Regions from separate parts of the Homo sapiens genome. Here region 1 is linked to region 2. The links come from fine-mapping of genetic effects on gene expression. A gene starts in region 2. The other region holds a variant in brackets. All regions are shown on one strand. Distances are from middle to middle.

Region 1 (13,701 bases), 53 kb after region 2:
GACATCTACGCCCAGGCCCTTGTGTACCTGTTCACTCACACTTGCACGGGGCGGGGGGGGCGGTGCCCAGGGGTATACATGCATAGATACTAGACTTACCAGCTTGGGCCAATGTGCTCCCCTTCACTTACGCACTCACACACAGCCATGCATGTGCACGCTGGCATACACATGTATATACACAGACACAAACACTCAGGCTAGCACCCACGGACATAGGGCTTTGCACATAGAATCTCATATATAAGTACACCCTCACACATATGCACAGTTGCTTTTCACAAACACCCCTGTCAGGGAACAGGTCCCCATGTGCCTGCTACACCCTAGCATCTCCATGAGAATTCACACTTGAACTTCTGTTGCCCATATGCACTTATAACCATACCTGCATTCAAAACAGCAAAGCATGAATGCACACACATGTGCCATGTATGCATGCATGCACAAAAGGACTAATGTGCACACACATGGGCATAAGCACACCACGCACTCCTGCATAACTTCACACGTACTGGTACGCACACACCTATGTGCGGGCATGCATACCAATTATCCCGAGGCTCTTCTCCACCAACCCTGCATAACTGGTGATGGCTCCCAGCTCTGGCATCGGGCAGAACTTTCTTGTGAGGTACGGGCTGTGACTCATAATTCACTCCAGCTTTCCTCAGCTCCTGTGTCATCTAGAGAGACTCAGAACACTTGCCCCTTCCCTTGGGCTGCCACCAAGCCTGAGATGACACCACACCTATTCTCCCGAACCAAGGCATCGAGCAACCTGGCATGAACCAGGTGTGGGTGGAGTGTTAGAGGAAGCCTTGGGGCAGTTCTGAAAGCTCCCCAAGCAATTATTAGTCATTTTGTTATGTGGCAGAGGATATTCCATGGACACCGCCCCCAGAACCTGCAGGAGTGCCACGGATTTCATTCCAGGCTTGCCCTGGGCCCCTCCTGCTGCTCCAGAGCCCCCTTCAGCTAGACGAGGAGGATGTGCTGAATTTTCCTTCCTTCACTTGAGCACTGGCTCCCCTCATACCTGGCCAACACGAGTCTCTTGAAATCAGCCTTGAAACTGAGAGCCAATTAGCTGCTCAGACTGCCTTAACAAAATACCTCAGACTGGGTGGCTTAAACCACAGACGTTTATTTTCTCACAGTTCTGGAGGCTGGAAGTTCAAGATCAAGGTGCCGGTAGGGTTGGTTTCTGGTGAGGCTTCTCTTTCTGGCTCGTAGACAGCCACCTTCTTTCTCTGTCCTCATGTGGCTTTTCCTTTGTGCGCCCACAGGGAGAGAGGGAGGGAGCTCAGGCATCTCTTCCCTCTCTAATGAGGACACCGGTTCTATCAGATTAGGACCCTGCCCTTATGGCCTCATTTAATCTTAATTACCCCCATCTCCAAATACAGTCACATTGAGGATTAAAGCTTCAACAAAGGAATTTGCTGAATTCACAATTCAGTTCACAGCAGACAACAAAGGGAGCACTACCTTGAGCAGTTGAGGGAGGCCCCGGCTCCCTCCTTTTCCTCAGGTGCATTCCTGAGATGTGTTTGTGCAGGAAGGAGAGGGGTAAGGACAGGCATGAGCACAGCCTCTCTTGCAGAAATAGAAATCTTTATTGCTTGCAAAGTACTGCACTTTTTTTGTTTTGTTTTGTTTTTTGTTTTTTCTTCAAAACAGGGTCTTGCTCTGTTGTCCAGGCTGGAGGGCAGCAGCATGATCTCAGCTCACTGCCGCCTCAATCTCCCAGGCTAAAACGATCCTCCCACCTCAGCCTCCCAAAGTGCTGGGATTACAGGCATGAGCCACCATGCCTGGCCAGTACTGCACATTTTCCAAAAGTTATAACTTAAATGTAAAGAGTTATAATTTACATACGATAAAGTTCACCCTTTTGGCATACAGTTCTCTGAGTTTTGACAAACAATAACAGTTGAGTAGCCGCCACCACAGCAGCCAGAGGGATCCTGTTGCAACCCAAGTCAGCCCGGGGCCCTCCTCTGCTCGGAGCCCTGCCATGGCTCTCATCTCTCTCAGAGAAAAAGCCAAAGTCCTCTCCGTGGCCCACGAGGCCCTCCGGGCCCTCCTTGACCTCACCGCCCGCCACTGGCTCCTTGTTCACTCTGCTCCTGCCCCACTGGCCTGTTCTTCAAATGTGCCAGGCACCTCAGGGCCATTGCCTCAGGGCCCTTGCCTTTCTTTCTTTTTTTTGAGACAGAGTCTTGGCCTATCACCCAGGCTGGAGTGCAGTGGCACAACCTCAGCTCACTGCAACCTCCGCCTCCCAGGTTCAAGTGATTCTCCTGCCTCAGCCTCCCAAGTAGCTGGGATTACAGGTATGTGCCACCACGCCTGGCTAATTTTTGTATTTTTAGTAGAGACGGGGTTTCACCATGTTGCCCAGGCTGGTCTCAAACCCCTGACCTCAGGTGATCCACCCACCTTGGCCTCCCAAAGTGTTGGGATTACAGGTGTGAGCCACCACATCCGGCCCTTCGCCTTTCCCTGGATCACTCTTCCTCTAGATACACCCTCCCAGCTCACACTGACAGGGAAGAGTGCACTCCCAGGTTTACACTGACTGCTATAGGGACCTTCCCAGGGTCACACAGCCTGGGGTGTGGATCCTCTTGGAATCACACAGGTGAGGGTGTAGACACTCATGATGTTACTAGATTTTGGAGTAAGAAATCCTGAGGTCATGCTGATTGTGGTGTAGCCACTTCTGGGGTCACACAGAGTAGGGTGTGGCCACTGCTGAAGCATCACAGACCGGGATGTGTTCTCTTAGGGTCATACAGATTGGTGTGTGGGCAACACTGGAGTCACGCAGACTGGAGTGACTTGGATCACCGAGTTTGGGGTGTGGACACTTAGGGTCACACAGTCTGGAAAAAGGACATGGCTAAGGATACATAAACTGGGAAGTCAGCACCACTGTGGTCAAGTGACTGTGATGTGGACACTCCTGGATTCCCATAGGTTCGTCTGGGGACACTCCTGTGGTTACACGACTTGTGAAGTAGACTCTGCTGGGGTCACACAGACCCAGCTGTGGATATGCTTCGTCTGTGTGACTGGGGGGTGAATGTCCCCTGAGTGACAAAGATTGGCGAAGGGACACCCTTGGGCTCCCAAGACTTGGTGTAGATCCTTCTAGACTCCCACTGACTGGGGGGAGGGACACTCCTGGAGTCACACAGACTTTGTTGTGGACACTGTTGGTGTCATACCCACTGGAGTATAGACACCTCTCAGGACATGCAGATAGGTGTGGACACTCCTGTGGTCACACAATTTGGTGTGAACATTCCTCTGGTCACACTGACTGGGGAATTGACTCCTGTGTGTTTACAGACACTGGGGTGTGAAGACTCCTATGGTCACACAGACAGGGCTGTGCCCTCCCCTGGGTCACCCAGACTGGAATGTGGACCCACCAGTAGTCACTGGCACTGGAGTTTTACACTCCTGTGGTCACAATGACAGGGGAGTCGATAGTCTTCTGGTCGTACAGATGGGGGAGTGCACCTGCCTGAGGCCGTCAAGATGGGTATAGACACACTAATAGCCAGAGACTATGGGGTTTGGACAACACCAGGGTCACATATGCTGGGAACTGGACATTACTTGTGTCATAAAAACTTGGGTGGGGACACTCCTGAGGTGGCTGGACTGGGGCAAAACCACTCCCAGGACACCACAGACTGAGCTGTGGACTCCTCTGTGGTCACCGTTTGAGCTACACATTTATGGCACCACTAAGATGGCTATGGAAACTCCAAGCCATTGCCACTGCTGGACTCACAGAACCTGGCGTGAGGACACTCCTGAGGTCTCACAGGCTGTCGTGTGAACGCTGCTGAATTTGCACTGTAATGGGTGTGGCTACGCCTGTGGTCACACGGCCTTTTGTGTGGACACTTCCGCCATACATTCTTGGGCTGTGCATATTCACAGATTGGGGTGTGGGCATTCCTGTGGTCACACTGACTTCGGTGAGAAGACTCCTGGGTTAAGTCACCATGGTGTGGACACTCCTAGACTGACACAAACTGGGGTCTGGACATTCCTGGAGTCACACAGACTGGGGTGTGGTTATTTTCGTGGTCAGAGACCGGAGTGTAGACATGCCTATGAACACACGCTCCAGAATTTAAACACCATTTCTGACTGGAGATTGGACAATGGTTTTCCCAGACTTGAGTGTGCATACTCCTGGGGTCACACATGGTAACTGGGGTGAGTCACAGTCAGGTGTGGAAACAGCTGGGGTCGCAGACTGGTATGTGGATACTCCTGAGGTCACTGGACTGTGGCGTGGATAGTCCTTGGATCACAGAGTACGTGAATTTCTAAGGACACAGGATTAAGCTGTAGAAAACAGTTCTGTTCGTGTAGCTGGGGAGTTTCTGTCAGCTCCTGTTCATTAAGTTATAGAAATTTAGGACTGCAGTCCAGGTAGACTTTCTGACATTGCTTTTTTTTTTTGAGACAGAGTCTCACTCTGTCGTCCAGGCTGGAGTGCAGTGGCGCGACCTCGGCTCACTGTAACCTTCATCTCCCGGGTTCAGGTGATTCTCCTGCCTCAGTCTCCTGAGTAGCTGGGATTACAGGCATGTGCCACCGCACCCAGCTAATTTTTGTATTTTTGGTAGAGACGGGTTTCACTATGTTGGCCAGACTGGTCTCAAACTCCTGACCTCAAGTGATCCGCTTGCCTCAGCCTCCCAAAGTGCTGGGATTACAGGCGTGAGCCACCACGCCTGGCCCTGACGTTTCTTTAAGACAGGTTTTTAACCTAAAAAATTTGTTCTGAAGTCTGGGTGCGGTGGTTCACGCATGTAATCCCAGCACTTTGGGAGGCCGAGGTGGGTGGATCACCTGAGGTCAGGAGTTCGAGACCAGCCTGGACAAAATGGTGAAACCCCGTCTCTACTAAAAATACGAAAATTAGCCGGGTGTGGTGGCGGGTGCCTGTAATCCCAGTTACTCGGGAGGCTGAGGCAGGAGAATCGCTTGAACCCAGGAGGCAGAGGTTGCAGTGAGCCAAGATCACACCACTGCACTCCAGCCTGGGTGACAGAGCGAAATTCTGTCTCAAAATAAATAAATAAATTTGTTCTGCAGAACCCTTTGGCATCTGGTTAAATCTGTGAACCCCTTCACAGAATATTTTTAAAAGTATATACATACACATACACACACACACAATTACAATGGAAGCCAATTACATTGAATTACAATTATTACTATATATTAAATTGAAACAAAATTGAGATGCAGTAATATATGGGCTTTTTAATTAATACATCAACTTACAGGATCTGCTATCATTCCAAGAGGTGACAAATATGAACAATACTTCAAGATGCCCTTTTTATGTTACATTACAGTTGCTGTAACTGGTTTGTATTGGTGGGAAAATCCCAGGTACTGCTTTTACTACTGTGATTTGTTGCCAGCATTTATAACTTGGGAGTAAGGCTAAATTTCAGTTTCATTGCTGAAAATAAAGATGTAACATTTTCTTCCATCAAGTTCATGGTTACCCCTGGCTTCTATCCAGGTTAAGAATCCCTGCCTTTAGGGAAAATTCTGGACATAATCAGGACACTCCTGAAGAGGTTTAAAGAAGAGGTAAGACCTCACTCAAGAATTCCCACTGCAGTACAGACAGACTTTCATGGTTTCTTTCCTTGTTGTCTTCAGGGTTGTTGCAGATCCCTCCTCAGGGCTTGTTTGTCCAGGCCTCGTTGATGAGATGATATTTTGAAAACAAGTTCATCAACAAGTTCCGGTTTTCCTGACATTGAGCAGTTTCTGAGTTGTATCAGTTTGCCAGCTAACCAAAAGTCAAAGAAAGTTTTTTTGTTTTGTTTTGTTTTTTTAGAGACAGGGTCTTGCTCTGTCACCCAGGCTGGAGTGCAGTGGAGCTCCATCATAGCTCACGACAACCTTAACCTCCCAAGCTCAAGTGATCCTCCCACCTCAGCCTCCCAAGTAGCTGGGATTACAGGCAGGAATGTGCCACCACACCTAGCTAACTCTGCTGCTAACATTTTTGTGACATTTCCTCCTTTTATGGTGAACCATGACATATAGAAAATGCATAAAACCTATATATGTTCAGTTTAATGAATAACTACAAGGTGTTATTTGGTGTAATTGCAGGATGTTCACTGTCATTGTTGTACAGTTCTCCACGGTGAATGTACCACGATTTAATGGGCATATACTATAGATAGTGCTGCTAGCAACACTCTAGGACTCATTTCCTTTTTTTTGAGATGGAGTCTGACTCTGTCACCCAGGCTGGAGTGCAGTGGCACGATCTCAGCTCACTGCAACCTCCACCTCCCAGGTTCAAGTGATTCTCCTGCCTCAGCCTCCTGAGTAGCTGGGATTACAGGTGCCCGCCACCATGCCCGGTTAATTTTTGTATTTTTAGTAGAGATGGGGTTTTGCCATGTTGGTCAGGCTGGTCTTGAACTCCTGACCTCAGGTGATCCACCCACCTCGGCCTCCCAAAGTGCTGGGATTACAGGCGTTGAGCCACGGCACCCGGCCTCTAGGACTCATTTCTTAGGAGTGGAACTGGCACACATGCAGCTTTAGTAGGTAATGCCTAAGTTTCCACAGTGGCTGCACCATTTTACCTTCCCAGTAGCATGTACGAGGCTTTCAATTGCTGCATATCCTTTCAAATACTTAGTGTTGTTGATATTTTGAGTTTTCACTTGTATTTTCCTGATGAGCAGCTTTTCATGTGCTTACTGGCCACTCTCATGTTTTTCCTTATTGATTTACAGGACCCTTTAAATATTAAAAACTGTAAATCTCTTTCACACAATGATTTGCTGTTTCAATTTTTTCTTAAGGTGGCTTCTTGTGGCCAGGTGTGGTGGCTCAGGCCTGTAATCCCAGCACTTTGGGAGGCCTGAGGCAGGCAGATTTTGTGAGGTCAGGAGTTTGAGACCAGCCTGGCCAACATGGTGAAACCCCGTCTCTACTAAAAATACAAAAATTAGCCGGGTGAGGTGGGAGCACACGTCTGTAATCCCAGCTACTCAGGAGGCTGAGGCAGGAGAATCTCTTGAACCCGGGAGGCGGAGGTTGGAGTGAGCTGAGATAGTGCCACTGCACTCCACCCAGCCTGGGCGACAGAGCGAGACTCTGTTCTCAAAACAAAACAAAAAACAAAACAAAAAAGGCCAGGTGTGGTGGCTCACACCTGTAATCCCAACACTTTGGGAGGCCGAGGCAGGTGGATCACCTGAGGTCACGAGTTTGAGACCAGTCTGGTCAACATGGCAAAACCCCATCTCTACTAAAAATACAAAAATTAGCCATGCATAGTGGCGGGCACTGTAATCCCAGCTATTTGGGAGGCTGAGGCAGGAGAATCGCTTGAACTTGGTAGATGGAGGTTGCCGTGAGCTGAGATCATGCCACTGCACTCCAGCCTGGGTAACAGAGTAAGACTCTGTCTCAAGAAAAAAAAAAAGGTGGCTTTTTGTGATGGCTGACTTAGTCTGAATAACCTGCTATGCCATTGTCAGAAAGGGCCATCCTCTAACATCGTGGTTTTAGAACATTTGGCTATGGATAAACTTTCCTCCCATACCACGTGCAGTTCCACCTTTGGGACATGCCTATTTCCTTTACCCAGAATGCTCTTCCCTCAGATAAACACATGGCTTCCCTCCGGCAGTGCCTTCAGGTCTTTGCTCAAACATTACCTCTGAGGAATGTCTGAGGCCTTCTATGACAACCCTTTTAAAAAGTGCAAACTGGCTGGGCGCAGTGGCTCATGCCTGTAATCCTGGTACTTTGGGAGGCCGAGGATGGCAGATCGCTCGAGCCCAGTAGATCGAGACCAGCCTGGGCAACATGGCAAAACTCCATCTCCCCTAAAAATACAAAAATTTGCTAGGCATGGTGGTACATGCCTGTAGTCCCAGCTACTTGAGAGGCTGAGGTGGGAGGATTTTTTGAGCCCGGGAAATCACACCACTGAACTCCAGCCTGGGCGACAGAGTGAGACCTTGTCTCAAAACAAAAACACCAAAAGATGAAAACTGCCATGCCTAGAATTCCTGATTCTCTTCACCCTGCTTTACTTTTTTCTATTTTTTATATCCCATATTACTCTTATATATTATATATATTGCAAGATATGTAAATTGAGAAATGCAAGCTATATAGTATATATGTGTATGTAAACTCTTGCACTTACAGACTGTTTTGATTGTTGCCTCTTTTCCAAACTGGAAGTACTGTGAGAGCCAAGATATTTCTGTTTTGCTCCCTGCTCTATCTCCAAACCTAGAACAACACCTGACATACAGTATGTGCTCAATAAATGTTTACTGAATGCCTCAAATGTAAAATGCTTAAAGCAGTTCCTGGCATACAACAACAGATGTTTAGAAAAGGGTTTGTTGATTAAAATCTTATCAGTTGACATAAAAATTTCAAAGGTGAAATTTTACTGAGGTTTTTCATAAAGGTTGCCCTTACTCAAACTCTTAGATAACAAGGCAAACTTACCGTAATGGGTTAAGGTGAACAACTCATTTCATTGTCTTCCATCTACCCAAGAAAAAGAAAAGTGACTCACATATTTGGCGAAACTTTTCCATTCATTATGCTTGGCTTTACCAATTTTTTATAGCTATTGGGAGGCAGGAAAGGGAATTTTGGCCCCAGAAACCATGAGATTTGGGTCAGAAAAAGGCACACGGGGAAGGGGTCAAGGCAGGCTGAGAGTCACATTTCCAGACCTCAGGGGCCAGCAGGGTGTGGCACTGAGGGGCGGCCAGGGGCTGGGGAAACGTGTCCACTCTGCTGATGGGGCAGTCCTGGGGGCGGATCTCCTTGGCCAGCTGCCCCTTCCTCTTCAACGTGCAGGCCTCCTGGTATGGTGGCGAGATGGGGGGCTGTGTGGGTGGAGTGTACTTGTACTCTGAGCCGCCCTCTAGCTGCAGGGACAGAGGGGTAGGGAGATGGTGAGGACCTGGTAACCTAGGACAGCCTCCCTCCCACCCACCTACTGTTGGTTGGGCACTCACGTCCAGTGGGTAACTGCGGTCCGAATCATAGGAGCTCAGGTCCCCACAGGTCACAAAAGGCACAATGATGCGGGTGGGACCATCCAGCTGGTTGAAATCTGGGTCTTAGGAACAGGGGGAGACAACTGAGGACAAGGTCAGGATGCCTGGGGCCAGTCATGACACAGGCGGCGGTATGGCTGCCAAACCCTCCCCACATATCCACCAGCTACTCTCTTCCCACCCCACCAGAAATCCTTCATTTGGTTCAGATCACCTCCTCGGGGAGGCCCTCCATAATCACCCCTTCTAAAACATCGGTGCCCTGCTATTTTTCACTGCATTTATGTCCACCTGATATTGGATTATATGCTGCCTGGATGACGTCTCCCTCACTCAAATGTCATCCCAGGGGCAGGCTCTGTCTCTTCCTGCTAGAGGCTTAAGGGGCAAAAGTTTCACACCGAGGAGGTTTCCACCTGGGACATGACTGAGATCTTCCTAGGAGAGAATGTCCTTAGGCAGGTGGAGTCTCCACTGGGGCAGGGCTCAGGATCCTCCTGGGATGGAATTTTCACCAGGCCCAAGAGTTACCACTAGAGGACTGCCTGGGCTGAAGCTCCTCCCGGGACAAAATACCCATAAAGGGGTGGGATTTCCATCAGAGAATGGGGCTAAGGATCCCCTTGGGAAAAAAATTCCCATGAGGGGACAGAGCCTCCCCCAGGGGGTGAGACTGTGGGCCCTCATGGGACCTAGATTGCATAAGGTGTGGCAGAGTCCCCCAGGGTGGCCCATGCTCCAGCTCTCACCGTAAGAATGGTCCAGCAGGGGTTTGCTCAGGTCCGGGATGAAGCCCTCGGGAGGGTCATAGCCCTGACAGACAGCGAAGGCCTCTGCCAGGGGAAGGTGGAGTGAGGCATGACTGCCGCTTCCTCCTCGTGCAGTCGGCGTCCCAGAGATCCCCCTCTGCCTGCCTGGCCCCTCCACCCCACTGACCGATGCTAGAGTTCCGGCTGCTCCTGGGCTTGGCACACAGCACGCTGGAGAAGAAGACCTGCAGCTGGCTGTAGAGGAGCGTCACATCCCGGCCTCGGAATATCTGCAGGGTGAGAAGGCAAAGACAGCGGGTGAGGGTGGCCCTCAGCGACCTCCCTCTACTCCACCAAGTTCCTTGAGACTTACCTTGGCCACAAAGCAGCCCCCTGGCTTCAGGACATGTGTAGCAATGTTCAGAGCCTGTGGGCAGGACAGACGGCTGAGGCTGAGGTGGAGACAGCCAGGAGGGGGCCAAAGTGGGTCAGGGGTGGCCAGGGTTACTCACAGCTAGGAGGAGCTGGGCCTGCATATACTCATCAACATCATGGAGACCGGTTACTGTGGCAAGAGGAACAGCGTTAGGGGGGTCCCATCTGGCTCTGTGCATCTTCTTGTACCACACAGATCAGACACTAAATACATTTTCCAGGCTGTCTTACTGCTAAGGTTCCAGATGCAAATTACTGTCTGCCAACTGGATGCATATTCTGAGCTCCTAACCCTTAGGAACTCATTTCAATTCTAAAACAACCTCACACACAAGCATCATTATCATTTCCACCTCCAGCCCAGACTGTTCCTCTGAACTC[C/T]AGATTCACAAATCAGATTCTACATCTCCAATACATCCACAACCAAACTCCTGACCTACCTCCCCAAACCTGCTCCTCCCACCATCCTCCCCATCTCATCTGAGCTTTCTAATTGTTCAAATCCAAAACCTTAGTCACCTCTGATGCTCCCCCCGCATCCTCTCCTCACACCCACATCGAAGCCATTAACACATCTACTTTCAAAAGATCTGACTTGATCTTCTCCTCTCCACCACTGCCCTCACCCATTATCACTTGCCTGGACTACTCCACCCCGGAGCCCCTGCTTCTGCCCTTGGCCCTCACACAGCTCATAGTAGCCCAAGCCCAGCACAGTCCTCTTCTCCTCACAACCCTCTCATGGTTTTCTCCAAGCTCTCATCTCGGTGAAAATGCCAACAGCCTCACCATGGCCCACGAGGCCCTATAGGATCTGTCCCCTGTTACCTCTCTGATGTTACCTTTTACCACTCTCCCCCCCTCACTCTGTTCCAACCACAGTGATCTGCTTGTCATTACTCATACATAGCAAGCACCCTCCTGCCTCAGGACCTTTGCACGGGCTGCAATTTTTCCTGGATTGCTCTTCCTCCAGACATATCCATAGCTTACTCCCCCACCTCCTTTAGTCTCTGCTGTTAAGTCAGTGAGGCCTTCCCCATCCACTTGATTTAAAATTCCAACAGGTACTCCTGCTTTCCTCCTGCTCAATGATTTCCCTATGGTACCCATCCCCCACCCCACCTTTTTTTTTTGAGACGGAGTTTCGCTCTTGTTGCTCAGGCTGGAGTGCAATGGTGCGATCTCAGCTCACTGCAACCTCCGCCTCCCGGGTTCAAGCGATTCTTCTGTCTTAGCCTCCCAAGTAGCTGGGATTACAGGCACATGCCACCACACCTGGCTAATTTTTGTATTTTTAGTAGAGATGGGGTTTCATCATATTGGTCAGGCTGGTCTCGAACTCCTGACCTCAGGTGATCTGACCACCTCAGCCTCCCAAAGTGCTGGGATTACAGGCGTGAGCCACTGTGCCCGGCCTCCTCACCCCGTTTTTTTAGAGAGAGGGTCTCACTCTGTTGCCCAGGCTGGAGTGCAGTGGTGCGATCAAAGTGTACTGTAACCTCGACCTCTTGGGCTCAAGTGATCCTCCCACCTCAGCCTCCTGAGTAACTGGGACTATGGGCATGCATCACCATGCCAGCTAATATTTTAAGACAGGGTCTTGCTATGTTGCAAGGCTGGTCTCAAACTCCTGCCTCAAGTGTTCCTCTCACCTCATCCTCCCAAAGCACTGGGATTACAGGTGGAAGCCACCATGCCTGGCCCCATCCCCTTTTAATGGTACAGAGCTGAATCATTTATTTTCTTTCCCATTTGCTCCCACTAGAACATCAGCTCCATGAGGTTAAAGATTAATGGAATTTTATTCATGAATGTTTTCCCAACACAATAGGTGCTCAGTAAATGTGTGTTGAATGGCTGGCTGGCTGAAAATGAATGAACAGTGCAACGGAATTGGACAGTTGCAGAGAGATGAGAGCAGGGAAAGGTAGACAACAGACATGAAACTCAAAGGGTGGGGTGCAAGTGGGAGGAAGAGAGAGGCAGAGAGAGAACAGGCAGCAGAGGTAGGGAGAAGTTGCCAGATGTGGGAGAAAGCTGAGTGCGGAAGGGAGAGGCAGGGAGTAACTGAAGAGGTGAATAAGTCAACCAAGGTGGGAGATACAGAGAAGGACACACACAGGGGGCCCCGCCTGGCCTCCCACTTTCTGTTGCTATTTACCATCAGGAGCCCCGTCACACACCACTAGGTCCGCAGGGCAGCCCTTAAAGTGCTGGATGATCTCCTTGGCAGTGGACAGCTATGGAGAGAGGGAGGATGAGTGGCCCCACGGCCCTCCACTGCTGCCCTCAGATCCCGCCTGCCCATGGTCCTGGCCCACAGCCCCTGGGTCAGCCAAATTCCCAGGCTTTGCCTCTCTAAGACTGGGCTCCACCTCTGGGGACCCAGCATCATCATTTTCTGCTGTGTCTGTGCAATGATGACCTGCTGACTGTTTCTCCATGGTTACTCTCTCACTCTCTTTCTCTCTCTGTTTCTATCACCTCTCTGTTTCTCTTCCACTCTGCATAGACCCCAGGTAAGGGCCTTCACCCAGGATATACCCCAACACCCTCAGCCATGCTCTTACCTGGGTGATGTCCCCCTGGATCTGTACCACACCTGGTAGTGGAGCCATAGCCTGCAGGTCCACAGCCACCACGTGGCCGGACCCTTGGCCCCTGTGGACAACATGGCCCACATCAGCCTAGTTTCGCTCCCGGGCCCCTCCCACCCAGCCGGCCCTCCTGGGTCTCCCATCTGGGACCCCCACACTTACCCGATCTTCTGGCTCAGCACCTGGCTCCAGCTGCCTGGGGCTGCACACAGGTCAACTGCCCGTGTCACGCCTGGGCATACATAGTGAAAGCATCCTGATCAGCTGCACCCACTTCTCCAACCTGGAGACCCTTGCAAAATTCACCCCTCTCCCCTGGGGAGCACCCACATATCTCCATTGCCCAGGTGCCCAACTCCTCTCCGGTATTCTGCCTATCTTCCTGCCTGTCTCCCTGCCCCAGAGACCCTCTGAGTCAGCCCACCTACCACAGGGAGCTCTGCAGACCCAGCCTACTTGTTTACCTCCTGTGCCCACCTCACCGCCCAGTGACCTGCCCACCAGTCAGGGACCTTGGAAGAGTTGGAATTCCTTATCCAGTTGTAGCAGTTTGAAGGCGCTGCGAGCACGCCAGCCATTCTCCTTGGCCAGGCGGTAGTAGACATCCCGCTTGTCCTTTGACGTCCGTCCCATTTCACACACCAGTTGCTCAAGGACCTGCCGACAGTCCACTGATGCCGGCCAGTATCAGTAACCAGATGAATGGGCTACCACCTACCTCTGTAGGGCGGAGAGAACCACACAAACTAAACTGGGCTCATCTGACCCACATGACAGCTCACACAGAAGATGGGCTGA
Region 2 (14,882 bases):
TTTATATGAATTTCCCCTCACAATGGTTCTAAGATACAAGGCCTCACAATGGTTCTAAGATACAATTATCTCTTTACAAGTGAAGAAATTGTGGCCTAGTGGCTGAGCCAGGATCTATAGCTAGGATACCTTGCTACCCATCCCACCATGAGGGAGTGTACTGTGAGGGGTAGCATCACCCTATGGGGTAAAGGGGTTCCAGAGCAGTGCTCCTGGGGGCACTGAGTACTCACTGTCCTCCGAGGGCCGAATATCTACACGCAATTGCAGGTAAGGTTTGGAGGCAGTGGCAAAGGCTGTGCTGAGGTCCCAGTCAGATAGAAGTGAGAGGTAAACTTCCTGTCCTAGCCGGTCCCGGCCCAGGTAGCTGATGCCAAAGTTCTTCTTCCTGGACAGGGGATACGAGGGAGCTCTCAGGGCCCCTGGTGCCCTGGAGGCCTCAGGGACAGTTTCCAAAACAAGGAGGGTAATATAGAAGGCGTTGAAAACAACTTCCTACTATGTGCAAGGTACTGTGCCAAGGATTATGGGCAGCCTGAGATCAGGTCATTTATACCCACTTTGTTACACAAACACATACAAGCAGGTACACACCTGCTTGTATCTGGAGGTCACATTGGAAACTGGTAAAATGTTGGCCGGGTGCAGTGGCTCACGCCTATAATCTCCGCACTTTGGGAGGCCGAGGTGGGTGGATCACCTGAGGTCAGGAGTTTGAGACTAGCCTGGTCAACATGGTGAAACCCCTTCTGTACTAAAAATACAAAAAAAATTAGCTGGGTGTGGTGGCAGGTGCCTGTAATCCCAGCTACTCAGGAGGCTGAGGCAGGAGAATCGCTTGAACCTGGGAGGTGGAGGTTGCAGTGAGCCAAGATTGTGGCATTGCACTCCAACCTGGGTGACAGAGCAAGACTCCATCTCAAAAAAAAAAAAAAAAGTTGGTCCCCTCTGGGGTAGATGTGGGACAGAAGTGGGAAGAAAGCAGCCTTCTTACTACATAAAAAAAAAGCAATCTGTGTTTGTTATTTTTCACAACAAAAATGTTTATGTAAGAAAGTCTAATAACAACTAAGAATTTTTCAGCTATACTTGTGCAACTATGTAAAGAAGTTTGTTGCGTGATGCTCATCATAACCATGGAAACATCCTAAATACCCAACAATTGTGTACTGTTTGAATTTCTTACCATGTGTATGTATTCCTCCAAAATCACAACAAAATGACTATCACATCTGCCCCCAAGAGACACCACTTTTCAGCTATCAGATTGGCAAATTTTGCAGTTTTACAGTAACCAATGTTTGCGAGGGTGTGAGGGAAACAGGCATTTATGTGCTGCTGATGAGATCATAAATTCGTTTTTTTTTTTTTTTGAGACGGAGTCTCACTCTGTCGCCCAGTCTGGAGTGCAATGGTGCGATCTCGGCTCGCTGCAAGCTCCGCCTCCCGGGCCCATGCCATTCTCCTGCCTCAGCCTCCCAAGTAGCTGGGACTACAGGCGCCCACCACCACGCCTGGAGAATTTTTTGTATTTTTAGTAGAGACGGAGTTTCACCGTGTTAGCCAGGATGGTCTTGATCTCCTGACCTCGTGATCCACCTGCCTCAGCCTCCCAAAGTGCTGGGATTACAGGCATGAGCCACAGCGCCCGGCTGAGATCATAAATTGATAAAACCTGTCTGGAGAGCATTTTGGAAACACCCATTAATAGTTCAAAAAGCAGGCCAGGTGCGGTGGCTCATGCCTGTAATCCCAGCACTTTGGGAGGCTGAGGCGGGTGGATCACGAGGTCAGGAGATCGAGACGATCCTGGCCAACACGGTGAAACCCCATCTCTACTAAAAATACAAAAATTAGCCGGGCATGGTGGCGCACGCCTGTAGTACCAGCTACTCAGGAGGCCGAGGCAGGAGAATTGCTTGAACTCAGGAGGTGGAGGTTGCAATGAGACGAGATCACACCACTGCACTCCAGCCTGGACGACAGAATGAGACTGTCTCAAAAAAAAAATTTTTTTTAAAGCAAATACCCTTTTACCTGGCAATACCACTGCTAGGAATTTATCCTATGACTAGATGTTTCCAAATACAGTAGTCCCTCTTTATCTACAGGGGATACATTCCAAGACCCCCCCGAGTGGATGCCTGAAACTGCAGATAGTACCAAGCCCTATATATACTATGTTTTTTTTCATATACATACATACCTATGATAAGGTTTAATTGATAAATTAGGCACAGTAAGAGATTAACAATAATAGAACAATTATGACAATACAGATGCTTCTTGACTTATGACAGGGTTATGTACCAATAAACTCATCGTAAGTTGGAAATACTGTAAGTTGACAATGCATTTGGCTGGGCGCAGTGGCTCACCTGTAATCCCAGCACTTTGAGAGGCTGAGGCGGGCGGATTGCTTGAGCTCAGGAGTTTGAGACTGCCCTGGGCAACATGGCGAAACCCTGTCTCTACTAAAGATACAAAAAATTGGCCGGGTGCGGAGGCTCACGTGCCTGTAATCCTAACACTTTGGGAGGCCGAGGTGGGCGGATCACTTGAGATCAGGAGTTTGAGACCAGCCTGACCAACCTCATGAAAATTAGCTGAGTGTGGTGGTGCACACCTGTAATCCCAGCTACTCTGGAGGCTGAGGCATGAGAATCACTTGAACCCGGGAGGCAAAGGCTGCAATGAGCCAACATCGGACCACTGCACTCCAACCTAAGTGACAGAGTGAGACTCTGTCTCCAAAAAAAAAAAAAAGAGAAGATCAAAAAACTATCTGGGACTGGGTGCGGGGGCTTACACCTGTAATCCTAGCACTTTGGGAGGCCGAGGTGGACAGGTAACTTGAGGTCAGGTGTTCGAGACTAGCCTGACCAACATGGTGAAACCTTGTCTCTAATAAAAATACAAAAATTAGCAGGCGTGGTGGTGCGTGCCTGTAATCCCAGCTACTTGGGAGGCTGAGGCAGGAGAATCACTTGAACCCGGGAAGCGGAGGTTGCAGTGAGCTGAGACTGCGCCACTGCACTGCAGCCCGGGGGACAAGAGCAAAACTCCGTCTCAAAAAAAAAAAAAAAAAAAATTATCCGGGCATAGTGGTGCATGCCTGTAGTCCCAGCTACTTGGGAGGCTGTGACAGGAGAATCACTTGAACCTGGGAGATGTCACTGCACTGCAGCCTGGGTGACAGTTAGACTCCATCTCAAAAAAAAAAAAAAAAAGAAATAAAAAGGAAAATGCATTTAACACATTTATCCTACCAAACATCACAGGTTAGCCTAGCCTACCTTAAACGTGCTCAGAACGCTCACATTAGCCTACAGTTGGGAAAATCATCTAACACAGAGTCTGTTTTACAACAGTGTTGAATATTTCATGTAATTTATTGAACACTGTACTGAAAGTGAAAAGCAGAATCGCTGGGCACTTGCAGTACAGTTTCTACCAAATGCGTATCGCTTTTGCACCATTGTAAAGTTGAAAAATCCTAAGTCCAGTTATTGTAAGTTGGGGACTGTCTGTAAACTGTAATAAAAGTAATATGAATGTGGTCTCTCTCTCTCTCTCAAAATATCTTATTGTATGTAATATTTGCAGACTGAGGTTGACCATGGGTAACTGAAACTGCAGAAAGCAAAACCACAGACAAAAGTAGACTACTGTGCTCCAAGACATGCATACGTGGCTGTTCACTGTGGGATTATTTGTAGTAGTAAAATAAACAAAAACCCTACCAAACAAAGGCCAGATAGCCACTGTAGAGGTCGGTGGCCCACTGGCCAGTCCCCAGCATCTTCCCACTCACCCACTCAAATCAAAGGCTCGGATGAGGATGTGCTGCAACACGTCGAGCGAGGTGATCTGGGGATCTACAGCAAAAGAGCGGAACTCTGGCGGCAAGAAGCTCTCACATTTCTGGGGAGAGAAGACATGGGGTAGGCCACCAGGGGCCCCATCACCATGCTGAAGAGTGAGGTGCAGAGTGGTAGAAGGCAAAGTCAGAGAGGTGCCAGGGGCCAGATCAAGGCAGGTGTTCTGGACCACAGGGTCCAGTGAGGAGGAGGCTACTGCAAGAGTTCAGGCCCCCAATCCTTCTTCTATATCCCTTCAACTATGGTTGCCAGAATCACCGTGTCCAGTCTGGCTCCTGTTAAATCAGTCCTCTATGGTGCTGTAACCAATCTAACACATCTACCTACAACACTCCCCTGCTTCAATCTCTTCAATGGCAACCCTAGAGTCCCAGCAAGCGGGCCTATGGGGCCCCAGCCAGCCTCTCACCAGGTTTTTTGAACTTTACACTCTAGTAGTACCAAACTGTTAGAAGTTACCTTGAAACCATCCTGACTCCAGGCCATTGATTGTGCTGATCCCCTGTCTGGAACATCCCTCCCACTTTCTTCACGTGGTTCACGCCCAGCTCAGGCATCATCTTTTTTCTGAATGTCAAACTTCTACCTTAGAGCTCTATTACACTGAAGTGATGTGTGGACCCTCTTATCACTGCCAGTGCCACTGGTTGGTCGGAGCCACCATCATTGTTTACTGGAACTATGGCAACAGCGTTCTTCCTCAGCATACACACCAAAGGCCCTTGGCGATCTGTCTCTGTCTTAGCGCTCTGATTCACCTCCTACCACTCTTCCCCTCATTCTCTCCACTCCAGCAATCAGGAACCTACGGGAACATGCCAGGCTCATTCCCATCCTCTAGTCTTTGCCCTTGCTATTCCTTCTGCCTAGAATACTCTTCCCTTCTAATATGCACATGGCTGACTCCTTTTATTCGGGTCTCTGCTCCTTCAATACCTCCTCTGGGGATTTCCCTGTACAACCTTGGCTAACGTGACTCCCTATTTCATAACCTTTTTCATTATTTTAGTGTCCGAAGCATCTCATTTCTTTAGTTGTCTCCACCCACGAGCCTGTCAGCTCATCAAAGTGGGAACTTGCACATAAGTGCACTCTCAACACATGGGTTGACTGACTCCAGAGCCAGCACCTTCTCATTCCTCAGAGCCCCACCCTCAACTACTGCGGCCCCTCCTCCAGCCCCATAGCCCCTCCCCTTTGTCTATAAGCTCCACCCATTCATCCCATAGACCCCCGCCTCGTCCCTCTATTTTCAGTCCCACGCCCCAAGGTACGTCGCTAACGCTCTCAGGCTCTCAGGCCCTCCCTACCCCTCGCCATCATCACTTGGCCCTCAAGCTTCGCCGCTCAGGTTATGTCCGAAATCTCAGGTCCCGCCCTCCATCCTATGACAGCCACCGCCTCCCCCTCCCCTGGGATGCCTCGGCGGCTGGGCCGACTCACCGCCAGCCTCACCTTGACTCGGACCCGCACCACCTCTCGCTCCTCCTCCTCAGCGGCCGCCGCCGCCTGAGCTCCCACACCGGGCGGGGGCGCTCCGGAGCCAGACAAGTCCGAGGCCCCGGAGGCTGTTGCCATCCCGCCGCCGCCCGTCTCAGGGTGACGGCTGACCGTTGCCCCCCACCCCGGCGCACACTCTACTGTACTGACGCCCGCCGCCCCACCTCGTGCCGGGGCGCAGGCGCAGAGGGCGCCGCGCGACCCTACCCCCCACCGTCCCTCCCACCTGGCCCTGCCTGGAGGTCGCCTCTGCGCCTGCGCCTAGAGTGCTGTTGCCAGGAGCCCCGCCCCCAAAAGTCGGGCATTTTGCTCTATTTCAGCTAGCGTGCAGACGCCTACTGAGGCCCCGCCTCCCCCAGCCCCGTGGTTTGGTTGTTTTGACAGCATACTTCCGGATTCACGGAGGTGTTAAACTGACGCCTCGTTCGCCAAGAGAAGGGGGCGGGGAAAGGAAGAGGCTGCGTGATGACGTCAGGCCCACACCCCGCCTCAAGTTGCCTCACGCCTCTGCTGGCAGATGATGTCATCTATTTCAAATACCAGTGGCCCTCGCTTCAAATGAATCCACTGAACAGAAAAAAATCCTTTTTTTTTTTATTTTTTTAGGCAGGGTCTCGCTCTGTCATCCAGGTTGGAGTGCAATGGCGCGATCACAGCTCACTGTAGCCTCAAAGTGAGCTATGATCAAGCGATCCTCCTGCCTCAGCCTCCCAAGAGCTGGGACTACAGGCGCGTGCTACCACGCCCAGCCAATTTTTGTATATCTTGTATAAACAGGGTTTAGCTGTGTTGCCCAGGCTAGTCTCGAACTCCTGACCTCAAGTGATCCACCCGTCTCGGCCTCTCAAAGTGTTGGGATTACAGGTGTGAGCCACAGCCCTCGGGTAAAGTGTTTTTAAAAATATACTCAGCAGGGTGCAGTGGCTCACGCCTTATAATCTCAGCACTTTGGGAGGCCGAGGCGGGCTGATCGCTTGAGCCCAGGAGTTCTAGACCAGCCTGGGCAACACAGCGAGACCCCGTCTCTAACAAAAAATTAAACAATTAGCTGGACGTGGTGGCGCACACCTGCAGTCCCAGCTACTCGGGAGGCTGAAGCGGCAGGATGGCTGAGCCCAGGAAGTCAAGGCTGCAGTGAGCGGTGATCACACCACTGCCCTAACCTGCACCACAGAGCAAGGCCCTGTTTCAAAAAAAATTAATAATTTATACCCTGACTTAGTAAGGTCAGATAAAACAGGAAAATGGTTTACACATTGTGAAAATTCATGGAGATTTTGTACACTGATGATTTTTGTACTTCCTGTATGAATGTTATACTTCATTAAATAATTTGCCCCCAAAAAACACTATTATGCTCTCTGGAGTTCTAGCTTTTTAGTTTGCCTTTGTCTGAAACTTGACGAGATCATACTTTCCCAAGTTTACACATCTAGGAGGCAAATTTCCAGGTAATTCAACTCCAGGAAGGACACTAATGCTTCTAATTGAAACCCAGGAAGAAGTTAACAATCAAGCCTTCAGAAGGCAGAAAGCGAGACAGACCCAGGGAGCTCAGCAGCATATCTCTAAAGCTCTGCCATTATTGAACCAGCTCAAAGGATCCCCGGTCTTTGTGTCCCTTTTCCAAGTTTCACATTCTCAGATCTTGGGGAATCACTGAATCACTGGAAAAGCCCTCTGTCCAGCTTGGTCTAGAGATTTCTTTGAAACCTGACTAAAATGTTGGTACTGACTGCCAGGGACCAGTTGAAAGAGAAGTGGCCAGGCTCAACTACGAACCAATCAATGGGGCCCAAATGATACCATCTATAAAAGATCAGCTTTTTGGGGTCCCAGAGCAGGGTGGATAATGGATCCGGAAGAGCAAATGGGGAATGCCCAGCAGAGCATGCAAAAGGCTCAGCAATGTGCTGAGCACATAGTTAGTGATCAAAACAATGAATGGAAGAAGCCAAGAATAAATGAAGAAAAATTTTAAAAAATAAACTGAGTCAGGCACAGTGGCTCACACTTGTAATCCCAGCACTTTGGGAGGCCGAAGTGGGAAGATCGCTTGAGCCGGGGAGTTTGAGACCAGCCTGGGCAACATAGGAAGACCCTGTCCCTACAAAATTAAAAAAAAAAAATTAGCTGGGTCTGATGGTGCGCACCTGTGCTCCTAGCTATTCGGGAGGCTGAGGTGGGAGGATTACTTGAGCCTGGGAGGTCCAGGCTGCAATGGAGTTGTGATCACGCCACTACACTCCAGCCTGGGTGACAGAGTGAGAACCTGATTAAAAAAAAAAAAAAGCCCACAAAACTTTGCTTTTGTCTTACCTAATCTTCATAACATGTTAAGGTTGGTCCTGTTCTTAAATGGTGTATGTCTACTAGATATTGGCTGAATTATTGAATATATCTTAGACTCTTCTGAGAAACTTTATATGTGGCAAAATGCAAAAAGGCAGTCTTCCCACTTAATTGCACAACATCCGTGCGGTTTGGACAAAATACAGGCTGCACTTACAAATGTTATTTCTGGCCGGGCACAGTGGCTCACGCCTGTAATCCCAGCACTTTAGGAGGCCGAGGCGGGCGGATTACGAGGTCAGGAGATGGAGACCATCCTGGCTAACACGGTGAAACCCCGTCTCTACCAAAAATACAAAATAATTAGCCAGGCGTGGTGGCGGGCGCCTGTAGTCCCAGCTACTCGGGAGGCTGAGGCAGGAGAATGGTGTGAACCTGGGAGGCGGAGCTTGCAGTGAGCCGCCACTGCACTCCAGCCTGCACTCCAACCTGGGCAACAGAGCGAGACTCCGTCTCAAAAAAAAAAAGTAAACAAAAAACAAAAACAAATGTTATTTCCAACAAAGGAGTCTTGTAAGATACTAGCACTCCAACTATTGTGTCCGTGTCATATGGACGCAACCCTCAAGGTTAACTTTTTAGGTAAGTCTGCAATTCTATTTTGGTGTCTTTTAAGACAACATGTTGCCTTGGTATTAACATTAAATAGATATCTCTATTTTTAGAAGGTATAAATAATGGGGATTTTCTCTGAAAGCCAGAAAAGGATTATTGGCATGTCTCTCTTGCCCCATGTGTTTAGAGTCAAAATCACTTATAGCACTGCTGGATTTTCTGATGGAAACAAGGAGTAAGAGCCTGCTTTTCATTTATCATAGGGTGGGATGTGCAAACCATTAGCCTGGAGTTTGGAATCGATCCTAAGGACACTGGGGCAAAGGTTTAGACAGGGGTATGATGTGGTCAGATGCCTCTGTCTTGGTCCTGGGGAGAGCTTTGGATGGAAAGATACTGGAAGCAAGGAGATCAAAAAGGAGGTCCTTGCCATAGTCCTGGGGAGAACTTTCTTTTTTGTTTATTCATTCTTCCATTCAACAAATATAAAGTATATGCTAGGCAGTCTACATAAATTAATTCTTATAATCTGCATAAAAACCCTATGAGGTAGTATCTTAGTCCATTTTTCTGTTGCTATAATCAAATACCCAAGACTGGGTAATTTATAAAGAAATTTGAGAGGCTGAGGTGGGAGGATTGCTTTGAGGCCAGTTCAAAACAGCCTCAGCAACATAGCAAGACCCTGTCTCTACAAAAAAATTTAAAAATTAGCTGAGCATGGCAGTATGCCTGTAGTACTAGCTACTTAGGAGGCTGAGGCAGGAGGATTGCTTATGCTCAGAAGTTTGAGGCTGCAGTGAGCTGTGATCATGCCACTACACTCTAGTCTGGGTGACAGAGTGAGACCCTGTCTCTAAAAACAACAACAACAACAACACCCCCCCCCCACCAAAAAAAAAAAAGAAAGAAAAGAAATTTATTTCTTACAGTTCTGGAGGCTGGGAAGTCCATGGTCAAGGAGTCACATCTGGTGAGGGCCTTCTGCTGGTGGGGCCTCTCTGTGGAGTGGCGAGGCAGAGCAGGGCATCACATGGTAAGGGTGCTGACCTTGCTAGCTCAGATCTGTTTCTCCTCTTAGAAAACCACTAATGCCCCACCCTTATGACCTCATCTAATCTAATCCTAATTACCGCTCAAGGTCCCATCTCTCAAATACCGTAGTCAGATTTCCCACCTCCTTAATTCTGTTAAAAAAGAGATTTAGTTTCAACATGAGTTTTGGAGGGGAGAAACATTCGAACCATAGCAGGTAGGTGTTATTACTCTAAGCATTCTACAGATTAGAGTACTGAAAGCCAGGGAGAAACAAGCTCAAGGTCAAAGGGGGTAGTGTCACAGAGAGTAGGCAGTGCAATGGATGGAACTTGGGGCTATGCCTGTTGTGTTTGAGGAAAAGCAAGGAAGTCAGCATGCCTTTAAGTAGAGTGAATGATAGGTGAGTGACAGCAGACGAGGTGAGAATAGAGTGAGATCATGCAGGGCTTTGACCTTAACAGTGAGGCATTTCTCCAAAGCTATATACTGTAGGCCTAAGCAGAGCCAGGATTTGAACTGAAGTCCACAGGTCACTTGATATTTCTTTTTTTGAGACGGAGTTTTGTTCTTGTTGCCCAGGCTTGAGTGCAATGGTGCAGTCTCAGCTCACTGCAACCTCTGCCTCCCGGGTTCAAGTGATTCTCCTGCCCCAGCCTCCCAAGTAGCTGGGATTACAGGTGCCTGGCACCACACCTGGCTAATTTTTTTGTATTTTTAGTGCAGAAGGGGTTTCACCATGTTGGCCAGGCTGGTCTTGAACTCCCAACCCTCAGGTGATCTGCCCGCCTCAGCCTCCCAAAGTGTTGGGATTACAGGAGTGAGCCACTGTGCCCGGCCTTACAGAGGTCACTTGAAGCCAGTCTACAGGTATCTGTGGTTTTATTATTTATTCTTTTCCATCTCTTCAAAACTTCTCAAGTACCCAGTTGTTTTATGATGGAGGGTCTATAAGGTAATGATAGACGGCAGGATGAGTGATGGGGGTCTGTAGAGTAAGTGAGGGGTGTCTGTTGGGTGAATAATAGCAGGTCTGTGGAGAGTGACGGAGGATCCCTGGGGTGGATGGGAGTCTGTGGGTACATGATAGGTGCACTATGAGGTAAGTCATGGGGGTCTGAGGGGTGAATGATGGCATCTGTGGGTGAGTGATGGGGTGTATATGGTGGATTGTGGAGGACCGTGAGTTGAGAGATGGGATGGTGGTGTGAGTGATAAGGGGTCTGTGGGATGAGAGATGGACTCTGTGGGTTGAGTGATGGCTTCTGCAAGGTGAGTTATGGGATGCTTATAGGGTTAGTAAAGGGGCATCTGTAGGATGAGTGGTGGGTCTGTGGTGTCAGTGATAGGGGTTGTTAGGGTGACTGATGAGGGGCTTCTGGGGTGAGTTATGGGATCTTCAGAGTGAAGATTTTGGGGGTGATAGGGGCCTGTGGGGGTGAGTGATGGGGTTGAGGTCTGTGTGGTGAGTTACGGGGTTTCTGTGGGGTCAATAATGGGCAATCTGTGAAACGAATGAATGTGTGTTGGTAGGGAGAGTGATGGGTATCTTAGGAGTTGATGGGGTATGTGGGAAGAGTGATGGGGGATCTGTGGGGTGGCTTATCAGAAGCCAAGAGGCTGAGTGATGGAATATATGTGGTAGGAGTGTTGGGGGCTCTGTGAGGTGAGAGCTGTGGCATCTGTGGGGTGAGTGATGGGGAGTGTCATGAACTGAATGATGTCCTCCTCCCCAAATTCATATGTTGAAGCCCTAATATCAGGGGAACCAGCCCCCAATATTTCAACATAATGTCACTATATCTGAAATAGAGCCTTTAAGGAGGTAATTAAGGTTAAATGAGATTATAAGGGTGGGGCCCTAATTCAGTAGAACTGGTATCCTTATAAGAAGAGGGACACTGGGCATGAGTGCACAGAGAAAGGGCCACGTGAGGACACAGCAAGAAGGTAGCCATCTGCAAGCCAAGGAGAGAAACCCCACCAGACACCAACCCTGATGGCACCTTGCACTTGGACTGTCCAACCTCCCGAAGTGTGAGAAACTGTTTGTTGTTTAAGCCACCTGGTCTGTGGCATTTTGTTACGGAAGCCAGAGCCGACTAACACAGGGGAGGATTAGGGTCTGTGGGGTTAGCGATGGGGCCTCTCTGGAAGGTATGATCAGGGGATAATAAACTGAGTAATAGGGATCTGTGGGGTAGTGACGGGGTCTGTAGGGTCATGAGGAGCCTGTGGAGTGAATGGGGTATTGAGTGGCGAGTGGCAGGATTCTGTGGGATTAATGATGGGGGCTGTGGGGCAAGTCTGTAGGGGGAGTGAAGGAGGACTTTGAGGAATGGGGGATCTGTAGATGGCTGATGAGGATCTATGGGGTGACGGGGGCATCTGTGGGGTGGGGGAATGACTGGGGGTCTGTAGGGGTGCTGATGTGCTAGCTCATAAGGTGAGAGGGCTTTGTGGTGTGAGAGATGGAGGGCCTGTGAGATGAGTGGGAGGCACCTGTGGGGTTAGTAATGGGGTGTCAATGGGATGAGTGATTAGAGCTCTGTAGAGTCAGTGATGAGTGAGTCTGTAGAGTGAGTGAAGTGATTAGGGGCCAATAAGCTGAATGATCCAGGGGTGGAGTCTGTTGGATGAGTAATGTGGCTCTGTGAGGTGAATGACGTGAATATGTAGGGTTCACGATAGGGCCTGTGGGGTGAGTGATGGGGGATCTTTAGGGTTTGTGATGGGAAGTCTATAGGGTGGGTGTTGGGGGGGTCCATGTGGCAGCAATGCAGGGGAATCTGTGGGCTGAGTAATCAGGGCATGTGATGGGGGTTTGTGGGGTGAATGATGGAAGATCTGTGAGGCTAAGTATTAGGGAGTGAGTGGGGTGAGCACAGAGCGGTATTACTGACTGAATGGTATCTCCCCAAAATTCATGCTGAAGCCCTAACCCCCAATACTTCAGAATGTGACTGTATTTGAAAATAGGGCCTTTCAAGAGGTGATTAAGTTAAAATGAAGTTGGTGAAGGCGGGTCCCAATCCACTCTGGCTGGTGTCCCTATAAGAAGAGATTAGGACACCGACATGCGCAGGCAGAGGGAAGACTGTGTGAGGACATGGCGAGAAGGTGACCATCTACAAGCCTCAGGGGACACTAAACTGGTTGACACCTTGAACTTGGATTTTCCGCCTCCAGAACTCTGAGGAAATAAATTTCTGTTGTTTAAGCCACCAGGTATGTGGCATTTTGTTATGGCAGTTTTAGAAAACTGACACAGATTTTGGTCCTGGGAAGTGGGGTGCTGCCATAATAAATACCTAAAACATGGAAGTAGCTTTGGAACTGGGTAATGGGTAGAGGCTGAAAGAGTTTTGAGGTGCATGTTAGAAAAAGCCTATGTTGCTGCTATGATCTTAATATTTGTGTCCCCCCAACCTCCAATTCCTATGTTGAAACCTAATCCCCAGTGTAATGATATTAGGAGGTGGGGCCTTTGGGAGGTGATTAGGTCATTCCCTTATAAGGGATGAAGGGACCGGAGTTCTACCCTCCCACCATATAAGGGTACAGAGGGAAGGAGCCATCTGTGAGGAAGCAGGCCCTCACTAGACACTGAATTTGCCAACACCTTGATTTTGGACTTCCCAGACCCCAGAACTGTGAGAAATAAATTTCAGTTGCCTATAAGCTACCCAGTTTATAGTATTTTGTCAGAGCAGTCCAAATGACTAAGACAATTATCTTGAAGGCTACTGGTAGAAATATGGATGTTGAAAGTGCTTCTGGTGAGGCCTCAGAAGGAAATGAGGAATATGTTATTGGAAAATGGAGGGAAGGCAAAGAACTTGGTTAATTGTATTCTAGTGTTTTGTGGAAGGTAGAACTTGTGAGAGGCGAACTTGGGAGATTTAGCTAAGGAGATTTCTAAGCAGCATATTATGTGGCCTTTTTCTCCTTGCTGCTTCTAGTAGAATGCAAGAGGAAAGAGAGAAATTGCAAAAGAAATTGTCAGGCAGAAGGGAACTCGAATGTGAAGATAAAAAAGTTCTCAGCCTATCCAACACTGCAAAAGCTGAGAATGTGTTCTGGTGAGAAGACAAAGGGTGTGGCTAAACAATCATGCCACAAAGAGATCATGGGTGTGACTCACTGACCTAATCAGCCATCTTGGCAGAAGCCAGGAATACAGATGGGTAATACCAGCAGAAACACGGCCAGCTGGGACTAAAGAGGACAGAGATGGGACAAAATGAAAGAAGACTGTAGGACTTCTGGGATTCAACAGGACACGACAACAGAGCTTTCTGGCTGTGAACATGCATTATACTTCAAGAAAAAGGGAGAATGATCCCAAAGGTGGGGCTGTCTCCTCCTCAGTTCCAGAGGGCAAAGAGGCCTCCTCTGTTTCAGTGGGCCAGGCTGCCACCCAGGGCTCAGGGAGAGACACCGCCTCTCCAGTGAACCAGGAAAGTGGGGCCCCCAATCTGGTGGGCCCAGAGGACAGAACATAGAGCCAAACAGGATTATTCTCAAGCCTTAAAAATCTAATAGAATTTGCCCTATTTGGTTTCAAACTTATTCGGAACCTGTGATCCCTGTTTTTTCTCCTGAGACAGGGTCTTGCTCTGTCGCCCAGTCTGGGGTGCACTGGTGAGAAGAGGGCTCACTGCAGCCTCGACCTCCTGGGCTTAATCAATCCTCCCACCTCAGCCTCCTGAGGAGCTGGGACTATAGGCATGTACCACCATACCTGGCTAATTTTTTAGTTTTTTGTAGAGGCGGGGTTTCACCATGTAGCCCAGGGTGGTCTCAAATACCTGGGCTCAAGTGACCCTCCCATCTCAGCCTCCCAAAATGCTGGGATTACATGCGTGAGTCACCACGCCTGGACTGTGATCCCTTTCTTCTTTGTGATTTCTCCTTTTTGGAATGGAAATATCTATCTAGCTTATGCTTGTCCTACCACTGAATTTTGGAAGCAGATGATTTATCTGGTTTCACGGGTTCACAGCTAGAGAAGAATTTTTGCATCAGGATGAATCATACCTCCAGTCTCATTTACACTTGATTTGGATGATATTTAGGTAAGACTTGGGACTGAAAGTTAATGCTAGACTTGATTAAGAGCTTTCAGAGTGGCTTATGGCACAGTGAATTATGCCTATAATCCCAACACTTTGGGAGGCTGAGGTGGGTGGATCATCTGAGGCCAGGAGTTCAAGACCAGCCAGGCCAACATAGTGAAACCCTGTGGTTGCAGTGACCTGAGATCGTGCCGTTGCACTCCAGCCTGGGCCACAGAGCAAGACCCTGTCTCCAAAAAAACAAAAGAGAGTTTTGGGCTGCTGGGATGGGGGTGAAGGTATTTTGCATGCAAGGACATGAATTCTGGGAGGCCAGAGAGAGCAGAATGTTATAGACTGAACTGTGTCCTCCCCAAATTCATATGTTAAAGCCCTAACCCCCAATACCACAGAATGTGACTATATTTGGAGATAGGGACTTTAAAAGGGTGGTTAAGTTAAAATGGGACTCATAGAGTGGGCCTAATCCAATACAAATGGT

Direction of the effects. Alleles are on the strand shown, and positions count from the first base shown. SD is a standard deviation of normalised expression in the study named.
For the expression in minor salivary gland of the gene that starts at base 5,543 in region 2, allele C in region 1 goes with a higher level than allele T (moderate effect, 0.43 SD a copy in GTEx).

What was found.
Region 1: its variant is fine-mapped to the expression of TBC1D25 in minor salivary gland (GTEx, PIP 0.93).

Annotation. Positions count from the first base shown.
Region 1 is chrX:48,477,883-48,491,583 of GRCh38, reverse strand. It overlaps FTSJ1 (FtsJ RNA 2'-O-methyltransferase 1), which reads right to left. Exons shown (of 13, transcript NM_012280.4): 2 at 13,416-13,623; 3 at 13,066-13,135; 4 at 12,877-12,967; 5 at 12,468-12,546; 6 at 10,381-10,433; 7 at 10,242-10,295; 8 at 10,056-10,158; 9 at 9,869-9,952; 10 at 9,078-9,181; 11 at 8,790-8,987; 12 at 8,557-8,598; 13 at 5,234-5,848. The coding sequence starts at 13,536. The coding sequence ends at 8,566. Among named protein-coding and RNA genes, the nearest start is that of FTSJ1, 8.5 kb to the right of the region's middle. RefSeq lists a silencer at 2,263-2,496. The variant C/T (reference allele first, on the strand shown) is at 10,685.
Region 2 is chrX:48,530,375-48,545,256 of GRCh38, reverse strand. TBC1D25 (TBC1 domain family member 25) reads right to left here and starts at 5,543. Exons shown (of 6, transcript NM_002536.4): 1 at 5,337-5,543; 2 at 3,815-3,924; 3 at 234-388. The coding sequence starts at 5,459. RefSeq lists enhancers at 4,888-5,388, 5,389-5,889, a silencer at 5,383-5,602 and a cis regulatory region at 13,276-13,645.